Linked DNA regions of Homo sapiens. The protein of the gene in region 2 purifies or fractionates together with the protein of the main gene of each other region. This does not show direct contact. Each region holds a gene or a part of one and is shown on either strand. Other genes may lie near its edges.

Evidence for each region.
Region 1: the proteins of MFSD6 (region 2) and ABCB1 purify together in Homo sapiens (affinity purification with mass spectrometry; one large-scale study listed by BioGRID and IntAct). This does not show direct contact.
Region 3: the proteins of MFSD6 (region 2) and ERLIN1 purify together in Homo sapiens (affinity purification with mass spectrometry; one large-scale study listed by BioGRID and IntAct). This does not show direct contact.

Annotation. Positions count from the first base shown.
Region 1 is NC_000007.14:87,552,296-87,555,954, reverse strand, and holds part of ABCB1 (ATP-dependent translocase ABCB1), read left to right. Parts: intron 1-2,022; coding exon 2,023-2,194; intron 2,195-3,659. UniProt on the Homo sapiens protein: Translocates drugs and phospholipids across the membrane. Catalyzes the flop of phospholipids from the cytoplasmic to the exoplasmic leaflet of the apical membrane.
Region 2 is NC_000002.12:190,435,820-190,439,478, reverse strand, and holds part of MFSD6 (major facilitator superfamily domain-containing protein 6), read right to left. Parts: intron 3,503-3,659; 5' UTR 3,450-3,502; coding exon 1,918-3,449; intron 1-1,917.
Region 3 is NC_000010.11:100,152,219-100,155,095, reverse strand, and holds part of ERLIN1 (erlin-1), read left to right. Parts: intron 1-156; coding exon 157-236; intron 237-2,743; coding exon 2,744-2,877. UniProt on the Homo sapiens protein: Component of the ERLIN1/ERLIN2 complex which mediates the endoplasmic reticulum-associated degradation (ERAD) of inositol 1,4,5-trisphosphate receptors (IP3Rs).

The DNA.
Region 1 (3,659 bases), on a different chromosome or scaffold from region 2:
GCTTCTGTGCAAATGTTTCCTCTGGCTGCATAGGACAACATCAGACTGGTTTCTACGTTAGTCTTGGTAAGCGAGAACTGAAATAAAGGAGATAACAGAGTATAGTACATATGTATTAAATGTCCTTAAATATATTCTTATGTAAGTTATGCCCAGTGGTAGCTTTTACCTCAGATCAACTCATAAAGTGAGAGATATGTATGTGTCTGTGTGTTGTGTGTGTGTGCATATGTGTATATAAATAATTGAAACGTTTCTCAAAAATAATTTTTCTGTTCAGATGATAACTGGCAAGTTGAGGATTTACATTTTGGGGGGTAGAAACTAATGATGTGTTGCTATGTTGTCACTATGAAGTTCTGTTTAAATTTCATCTTTAGTGAACACGGTAGTGATGTAAATTTCACTTGGCATGCTTTTGTAACTCTGTAATGTACCTAGTTAAAGTAGTCATGAAAGCAAGAAACAATGCATGTTCATATCTGGACAGTGCTTGAGCTCTGCTGTACATGCTAATGGAACAAGTTCTCCAAAGGAAATTAATATAATGCTATATAATATTTATATAGTTGTGAATTTATGGATCAAAGACCTTAAAGTATGACTTTTATATGGAAGTAAGTTCATGAATTTCAACAATTATTAGCTCCTCCTCTATCCAAGGCAATGCTCTAGGTTCTGCAGGGAGTTGCGATTAAGAAAATACAGACAGATTTAAGGCAATCTGTCCTGTTTCTCTAATCCTTTTACCTTGGTTCTACATTTGCAAAATTCCTTATTTTTCTTTAACTCTGGGCTCCATTAGCTTATCTCCATAGCTATCCTCTTAAACAGAGTAGTCTTCTCTGTTCCTTTCAAATGAAGGTCGAGTTATAGACATCATCTCCTTTAACTTTACCGTCAAAAATTGACCACCCTCTGAGGGTTTAAAAAATATTTGAATTATCAGTTGGGAATAACCTGTAAGTCATTAGAACTGCAGAAATAAAATCTGTCAGTGACTCCAACATTGTTTTTCGATTTTTTTTCATTTGCTCATTTTTGCCCCTTTTGTACAATTTCCTATATTTGCTCTAAGAAGTATTAATGGGTCCTCACCAGGTTTGGTTAATGTAGGGTAGGCCTTTGTGCTATGAATGGGTTCAGGGCTATAGATATGCTAATAATTTAATTTTTCTCAGCCCTTGAGTTAGTCAGAAGCCGTGGATGGCCCAAGCCACCAGGTCAGATCCTGTTAGTTCAGCAGCTGGCAGCTATGGCATGACAAGTGTTGGGAGCATTAATAGAGGGAAGGACACATAGTCAATATGTAGAAAGGAGAAGGAAGAGAGGGAATGCTGATGAATAATGATGTGCTTTTATAAACCTGTAAGCCAAATAATTTTTGTAGGTCAGTGATTTTTAAAATAAATGTCTACGGAAGTAAGATAAATTGTACAGCTTATTTAAATGTAAAAAGTATTACATGGCAATTCAGAACTCTCAAAATGCTCTCACACATGTAACCTCTCAGTTGGTCATTCCGACAGTCCTAGAGGAAGGCAGGACAGAGAGCAAACTGTCTCCAAACTTCCTTAATGTTCAGAGATTTAAATGACTGTCCCTTTTTTTTTTTTTTAGTACTTTCTAACATTATCTCTCCATTTTATTAATTAAAGAGGCATGCAGATTTTGAAGGAAAGACACAGGTTTTTTCCATGGCTTTTACTTTGTCTTGTGTATGAAACAATGTAAGTTTTAGAAGTTTGCTAAATATTGCTTCACTTATTTGCTATTGCTAAAGCCAGAGAAGGAAATTTTAGAAGACTCCCCCACAAATAAGTTAATCTCTATAAATGTCAGTTTCTTCTTCTGCAAAAAGGGAGTAAAACAGTACTACTATATAGGGTCAATGTATGAGCAGCAGGACAAAATGCATGTATATCACAGGACTGAACACATCCTAGCCACTCTGTAACTATCATGCTATATCGACATGTTTTCATAAAATGTATATGTGATCATTTTTGTTCTTTTTCTCAGGTACAACAAAAATTTAGAAGAAGCTAAAAGAATTGGGATAAAGAAAGCTATTACAGCCAATATTTCTATAGGTGCTGCTTTCCTGCTGATCTATGCATCTTATGCTCTGGCCTTCTGGTATGGGACCACCTTGGTCCTCTCAGGGGAATATTCTATTGGACAAGTACTCACTGTAAGTGGTTTACATTGAGAAATGAACCATTATTATAAAATGCCAATGAAATCCAGTAATGTTGGCTTGACTTTAGAAGAATATATTTTGAACAACTGTTGAATACTACAGACATATGCACTACTAGGTTAAAAAGTGGAAGGCCAGGCACGGTGGCTCACACCTGTAATCCCAGCACTTTGGGAGGCCGAGGCAGGCAGATCACGAGGTCAGGAGATCGAGACCATCCTGGCTAACATGGTGAAACCCCGTCTCTACAAAAAATACAAAAAATTAGCCGGGCGTGGTGGCGGGCGCCTGTAGTCCCAGCTACTCAGGAGGCTGAGGCAAGAGAATGGCGTTAACCCGGGAGGCGGAGCTTGCAGTGACCTGAGATTGCGCCACTGCACCGCAGCCTGGGTGACACAGCAAGACTGTCTCAAAAAAAAAAAAAAAAAAAAAAAGTGGAAAAAAATTAGATGCATCCGACAACCAGTTTTTTCTTTTATTTGCTTGTTTGTTTTTGCAGATATCTTGCACAATTTATCCTGTAGCCTAAATAATATTAACGTTAGCAATCTCAATAGCATGAACTTTTATTTGTTGAGATTATTTGTGCCAAACTTGTTGCTAAACACTTCACTTTTATTTTCTGATTTACTATTCACAAAAATGGCAAAATACACATTTTGACTTCTTTTCAAATTATTTCGAATGGCAGCTAATCCACCTCACAAATTATGGAAGTATAAATTGTTCCTCTTCCTAAAAGATTGTTTGGAAGTTTTCTGCATTATAGACCTTTGTGCAAGCACAGAAGTCTTGCCATTTAATGTTATCCTCTTTTATTTTAAAGACAATGAAATAATTTGCAAACCAAACTCAATTCATATCTGGATCTAATAAAATACACTGTTAGAAGAGTCACTTAGTTCCTTTTTCGTAGGCCAAGCAGAAATAGATTGAGGCAATGAGAGATGATATTTTGTAGAATCCCTTAAAACAATTCCCTTTTTCAGGAGCCAGATTTGTAATATGGATTCAATAATCACTTCTTTTTCTTTTTTTTTCAAATTTGCCTTATCCAACATTGCTCAGTGGGGAATGGCTTTTCCCATGAAGTTTTTTTTTTTTAGTATAGTGATGCTGTGGGTGATCCTTGGTTGTCATAACAGATGTTTTCTGTTTAACTGTGATTGAGATAAGCAGTTTAAATCCAGTGTTCACTGGGCATGAATATACTTCACACACTGGAGGCATCCAAAATAGGGAGTGTGGGGTTTGATATCGGACCAACTTGATTCAAATGGCAGCTTTGTCACTTATTAGCTGTATGATTTAGGGCAGCCAGCTAAACTTTTCAAGCCTCTGCTACCTCTTCTGCCAAATGATATGACAGGAATGAACCCTAACTTTCAGCGTGTTTTGAGGACTAACTGAGATAATGAATATAGAATCACTTAGCAAAGTTCCTTCTGTGTAAATT
Region 2 (3,659 bases):
GAAATAACCTAACAATTCCTTTGAAAATAGAACCTATCTATACACATGCAACAAATCTGCACGTTGTGCACGTGTACCCTAAAACTTAAAGTATAATAAAAAAATAAACAAATAAAACGTGAAAAAAAAGAAAATAGAACCTAAACACATACTCTGTACTGAGTCAGTGTTCAACTCATGCTATTGACTTATTAAATAATGATGTCTAAGAACTCCACGCATTGGTAAGACCTAACTGGGTACCTTTCTGGGAATGAATAACAGTGATTTTAAAGACATTATTAACTGCAGTGAGATTTGCTCATCTGCCCAAGCTGAAGGGAGGCATCTGATTCATCTCGGTCAATTTAAACAGCTCAGATAATCTAAACATGGTGTGGACAAAATTAAAGGGCATTCCGAGTCCTTAATATTATGTGGGCTCTCTTTCAGAATGGTCTTACAAAATGTGCCTCAGGGGTTCTGTGGGTCCAGGAAATATCCACACAGTCCCTGACTTTGGTGGTGACAACAAAGGGATCGAAGATCTGAGAAAGGGAAGGAACAGAACACCACCTCCCGAAGCAAAACCAAACCAACAAGAAAAAATACTCACAATTGCTTAAAGAAATGGTTGATACTAGGTTGAAACTTTAAATTAGAAAATATTTTCTTCAGTTAATAGAAAGGAAATAAAGGATTGTCAAATCTTGTCATTGTCTATTTCTCCTCTTTAATTTCTTATAGAAATAGCAGATTTAAATACACACAAACACATACGGTTGCTTTTAGTTACAGCAACTTCACATTTTAGGAACAGACATGTCGTACTTTTCTGTAAGGCAAGAATGCTTAAGTGGAGTTGGCTCCACATTTAGAGCCAACAGAGCAGAAAGATCTCTAAAGAGCAAGGTGCACATTAATGGTGAGAAGAAATAGTACACAACAAGAAACACTAGGCACTTACAGGGTGTTCTCTTTTTTTAGATGGAGTCTCACTCTGTTGCCCAGGCTGGTGTGCAGTGGTGTGATCTTGACTCACTGCAACCTCTGCCTCCTGGGTTCAAGTGATTCTTGTGCGTCAGCCTCCCGAGTAGCTGGGACTACGGGTGCGTGCCACCATGCCCGGCTAACTTTTGTATTTTTAGTAGAGATGGGGTTTCACCATGTTGGCCAGGCTGGTCTCGAACTCCTGACCTCAAGTGATCCACCTGCCTCGGCCTCTCAAAGTGCTGGGATTAGCAGGTGTGAGCCACTGTGCCCAGCCTATAGATTTTTTTTTTTATAACTAAAAGAATTACATGGGAAATTTTAGGTGGAAGAAAGATTTTCAAATATCCTATGTCTTCATGGTGGACAGAAATGCAGGGAGTCATGTAATAACCCAAAAAAAATACTTAAGAACCTCATCCATGTAATATCATGGAATTAGGGATTACGGTGGGTTACATCACAGTCTTATTAGATATAATGGACATCTTTAGATGCCATATATTCAGGCTCTATCTATGTCAGCAAGTGGCTGAGAATAAAGGCTTAAAAAAGTCCACTTTATCTACTTAAGCTCTGGTTCATAAATGCCTAGGACAGGTGGACCCTCCATGGAATAATATGTTCACTAAGCTGGTGTTCCTATACCTGAAAACATGTACTGTGAGAGTCTCTTAGCACACAGCTAGGTAGCCTATAGGTCTTTTCTGTGGGGTGGGAGAGCAGAGGAAGCCATTCTTTGTTTATTTGAGATAATCCAACCAGGTTCATGACTTCCTTTCCTTTGTTTCTATTTTAAGGAGGAAAAGAAACAGAAATCCCCATTTCCACTCCAACCCTATCCTCAACACAAATTATAATACCTTAAAATTGTAGTAGAAGGAGCTATAAACCATAAAAAGATAAAGTTCAATTGCTGAGGGGCAGCAATCGTAAGCATGTTCTTACCTGATGTGGCCGATCAATTCAATAAGCTTGTGACTAAAAAAATATGCTGTCAGCTCAGACACATGACTCAGGACTGAACAGACCCCAAAGAGGGTTGTAGTTCCATTGAGGTCTTCCAAATGCCAGTAGAGAAAGGTGAACACGAAGCCATATCCAAAACCCATGAACCAAGCCACAAACAGCACTGAGCCATACTGCACGCTGCAGAGCAGCTTGATTAAGTCCCAAAAGTTGAAGGCCTGCGAGTGGCTTGTGGTGGTTGGTGTCTCCTCAGAGGACTCTGTAGAGTTGTTCCTTTCCACCTGCGGGATCTCCACCTCTTTCCCTTTAGAATCATCGTTTTTGAAATGGTTGTAGCGGAACCGGAACTGAGTGGCAACGATCAAGGCCATGGTCATGAGAACGCCGAAGACGATGAAGACGATCTGGTAATTCCTGTACTCGGGGGGCTTACACCCCTTTCCATCGATGAGCACTTCGATGTGGGTGTAGTCGATCCCGATGCCCACAGACAGCATCGCCAGGCCCCAGCCCAGGGAGCCCCACATGCGCTGCAACCCATAGCGATCTCTGTGTTTTCCCAGATACTGGAGTGTGACCGTGTCTACGATTGTGACAGAAGAGGCACTGAAAAATTCTCCTATTATGACAACTACCAAGATCACCAAGAATATAGCTTCAACTTCTTGTTGATCATAAACAAGCATGACTTGGTCAGAAGGTAAAGATTTGGTGGTGGTAACAATAACAGTGGTTGTCTCCTTGGTTACGCTTCCTGGGGAGACAGGGGTTGCTGTGCTTGAGTTCAAAGTCAAGTCCATCATACGGTTAGTAATTTCACCTGTCTGGGGCTGCAGAGTGGGTTCACTGTTCATGTTTGGAGCTGTTGGCAAAGTAACGGTGTCTGAGACATTGAGCCTTGTTTCCAAAAGGTTTCTTTTCTCACGCATTTTTGGTGATATGGTGAGGAAAGAGGTAAAGGAAGAATTTGTTGGCAGGATAGTTAACTGGTGACTTGCATTGGTGGGGTGAGTTGTTGGGCGAATCTTTGGTACACATCTCAAGGTAGCAGGTTTGACAAATCCAATGCCCAGGTTGAATAAAACCCAACACAAAAGAGAAAAGAGGAGGACAATTTTGCCTTTTTTAAAGCGGTCTGCAACTACACCCCAAAAGGGGGCACTGCAGAATTCAATGAAGTAACGAATACCTACTAGTAGTCCACTCTGGCTTGGAGACATTCCCAGCTGTTTGTAATACACAGGCAAAAGGGGATAGAGAGAGCCATAGGCAGAGTAAAAGAAAAAATAAAAGACCTTGGAAATTAGAAGATCGTTGTTTATCTTAACACAATGTTTCTCTATCCAGTCTATTTCCTCCTCAGGAATAGCAGATGTTTCTGTGGAGGAAGGTGTTTCATTCGAAGGTGGTTCTGGTTCCCTGGAAATACCATTAAAGGGATCTGCAAGCACATACTTTCTCTTCTGTTCCTCTTCATCATCCGTTAAGATAGCAACTTTATCATCTGCCATGGCTTACCACCACCATCAGCAAGTTTACAAACTTCAGAATTTGTACTGTTGATCTGTAAAGTAAAATTTAAAAGATGGCTTAGTAATGAAAATCATAACATGTAAACACAGAACTTCATCTTGCAGGAAATTAAGCAGTTACAAACTAAAATAATAATTGCAAGAGAGAATTCTCATCATTTATCACTTGCAGCCACACAATACCGGTAA
Region 3 (2,877 bases), on a different chromosome or scaffold from region 2:
GAGAAGTTGCTGTTTGGGGACTGGGACTTGAAAACTGCTAATAGGTTTTTAAAACTTTCAATGTGAAATAAGCAGTCACAATATTAAGCAGTGGGGAAAGGGACTCTTAACTAGCTGAGGGAATGGATTGACACCTTTCCTTTGTTTATTTGCTAGATGCTGCATTCCTGGCCCGAGAGAAAGCGAAAGCAGATGCTGAATATTATGCTGCACACAAATATGCCACCTCAAACAAGGTGACTGGCTCCCTGGCCACTTTCCTAATGATGCATTTCGGGGTTTTGCTTTCTCTTTTCAGGAGCTCTGATATGATAGAAGTGATTTTATCCATTGTCAAGAAAGTGTAGTGACCAAGACATCCTCCAGAATTAGTCAGTTAGCAAGAAATATTTCACATTGATTGGGTAGGGACACAGGCCAAATGCCGTAATTCCATTCATTTGTACTGCTATATAAGGCTGAATAATTAATTAAGTTGAAGGTCTTCTGAAATAAGAGTGACAGAAGAGTAAAGTCTATTTAGAATTGCTTTCCAAATAAGGTAGTTTTTTTGGTAGATACTTAGCTTGATTAGAGCAGTATTTCTCATCAAAGGCATTCCTGGCATTTGGGGTTGAGATACTTTTTCATTGTTGAAGACCATCTCATGCATTGTAGGATATTTTGTATCCCTGGCCCTTGTCTACTGAATGTCAGTAGTGGTCACCAGTTGTTTTAACTGCCACACACACATGCATGTATTTCCATATGCCCCTTGTTGAGTACTCCTTGTTTATTGGATTTAAAAAACTATTCCAGTCATGAGGAATTTCATGTGGGATAACTTGAGAAGGCAGGTTGGGTGATATATAGGTGATAATTTGGTGTAAGGACTGGGGTAAGCTGGCTAGACGGTACAGGGCTAGTGAGCAGGGGCTATTTAAGAGGCAGCTAGAACTCCGATAGTATTCTGAGAAGGGAAGGGTATGTCCAAGATTTATAAGGTTATCGTGGAGCAGATTGGAACAGATAAAGGGTTGAGAAAGAGATTACTAAAGTGGATGATGCAGTTTGAAGGATTAGAGTCAAGTTTTAAGATATAGACAGGGCTTTTAATTTAGAAAGGAACAACATAATCCGTATTTAGAAGAAATGATAAGATGATAGAATGAGAGTTGTCAGTACTTTGAAAACCAATATAAATTTTAAAATGAACATAACATTGAAAGACACAGTTCTATAGACACAGAATGGAATTTGGCCAAAAGAAAGGCATGACAGGAAACTCCAGTTGAGGAAACTAGGAGTCCAAATCTAATGGGAGAAGCTCGTCAGGCACAAGTTTCAAGACCTTGCCATTGAGGTCTACCTTATTCAGAAAGGGGCAGTAGTTTTATGCCATTTTGAAAAATGTGACTCAGATACTAACCTATATTAAAAAGGCTTGAGGAAGAAATGTGGTTGTGCACTATGACCAGATTTGATTGGAGTGTTTCGACAGAGGATATGAATCACCTGGAGAAGATAGAGATCCAAAGAGTGAAAGATGTCAAAGTGTAGAAAATAAATGCTGTAGGACTGTGAAGGACAAGATGGACTTTTGCCTGGGGGACAGGCCAGGACTCAAGATAAGGAGAGGATCACAGAGCAGGGTCTGAGGGGCTTTGAAAGGCATATGTTACAGGGAACAGTGGAAATGGGTTTTAATCAAATCCAGATAGATTCTGGTTAGATACATCTTGGCATCCTGATTTAGACAAAACAAAACAGTGTGACAGAGGGAGATCTGGTGGTCGACGAGTTTTAATCAAACCCAGATAGGTTCTGGTTAGATACATCTTGGCATCCTGATTTAAACAAAACACTGTCACATAGATCTGGTGGTCGACAAACATCTGTCTGTCACAAGCAGCTTAAACATCCAGCTTCTGGGGAAAGGCAGAAGGCCAGATCAGGTGACAACTTGAGATTTTATTCTAGTTCTAGAATTTGTTCAAGAAAAGCAGAATCACAGCTAATGATAAGATAATGAGCACCAGCCCTTCCTTTGAAGTTCTGCTCTCATCCACTGACCTGTGTATCTCTCTCAAGAGAATCAACAGAGAACCAGGCATGATGGCTCATTCCTGTAGCCTCCCTGGAGGCTAAGATGAGAGTATCTCTTGAGCCCAGAAGTTTGAGGCTGCAGCAGCGAGCTATAATTGAACCACTGTATTCCAGCCTGGGCAACAGAGTGAGATCTCATCTCCAGAAAAAAAAAAGGCTGGGTGCAGTGGCTCACATCTTTGATTCCGACACTTTGGGAGGCCAAGGTAGGAGGATTGCTTGAGGCCAGGAGTTTGAGACCAGCCTGGCAACATAGACCCCATCTCTACAAAAATAAAAATAATTTTTTTAGAAAAGAGAATCAACAGAAACTCCAGACCAATTCCAGGTTGAATTCAACTAGATGAAATGAAAGTCACTTTAGAAATATTAGTTATTATCATTAGTTATCACAAATTGTTTTCCAACTCCCCCATCCTTTTATTAAAAAGTGAACAGCTTCTCTTGCATTAAGTCAGGAGCTTAATGAAGGAATTTTAAGTCAGGAACGCAGCTGTTAATGTGATAGCCACTCTCCAAAGTGAGAGAGGGTCATTGGCAGTTATTCAGACTTGACTCATGATACTCAGGAGAGCAATAGGTGAAATGTATATAGGGAGAGAGAAGACTGTTGCACCAGAGTATTCTGATGCCTTTGCTCTTGTTTGCTCCCACACAGCACAAGTTGACCCCGGAATATCTGGAGCTCAAAAAGTACCAGGCCATTGCTTCTAACAGTAAGATCTATTTTGGCAGCAACATCCCTAACATGTTCGTGGACTCCTCATGTGCTTTGAAATATTCAGATATTAG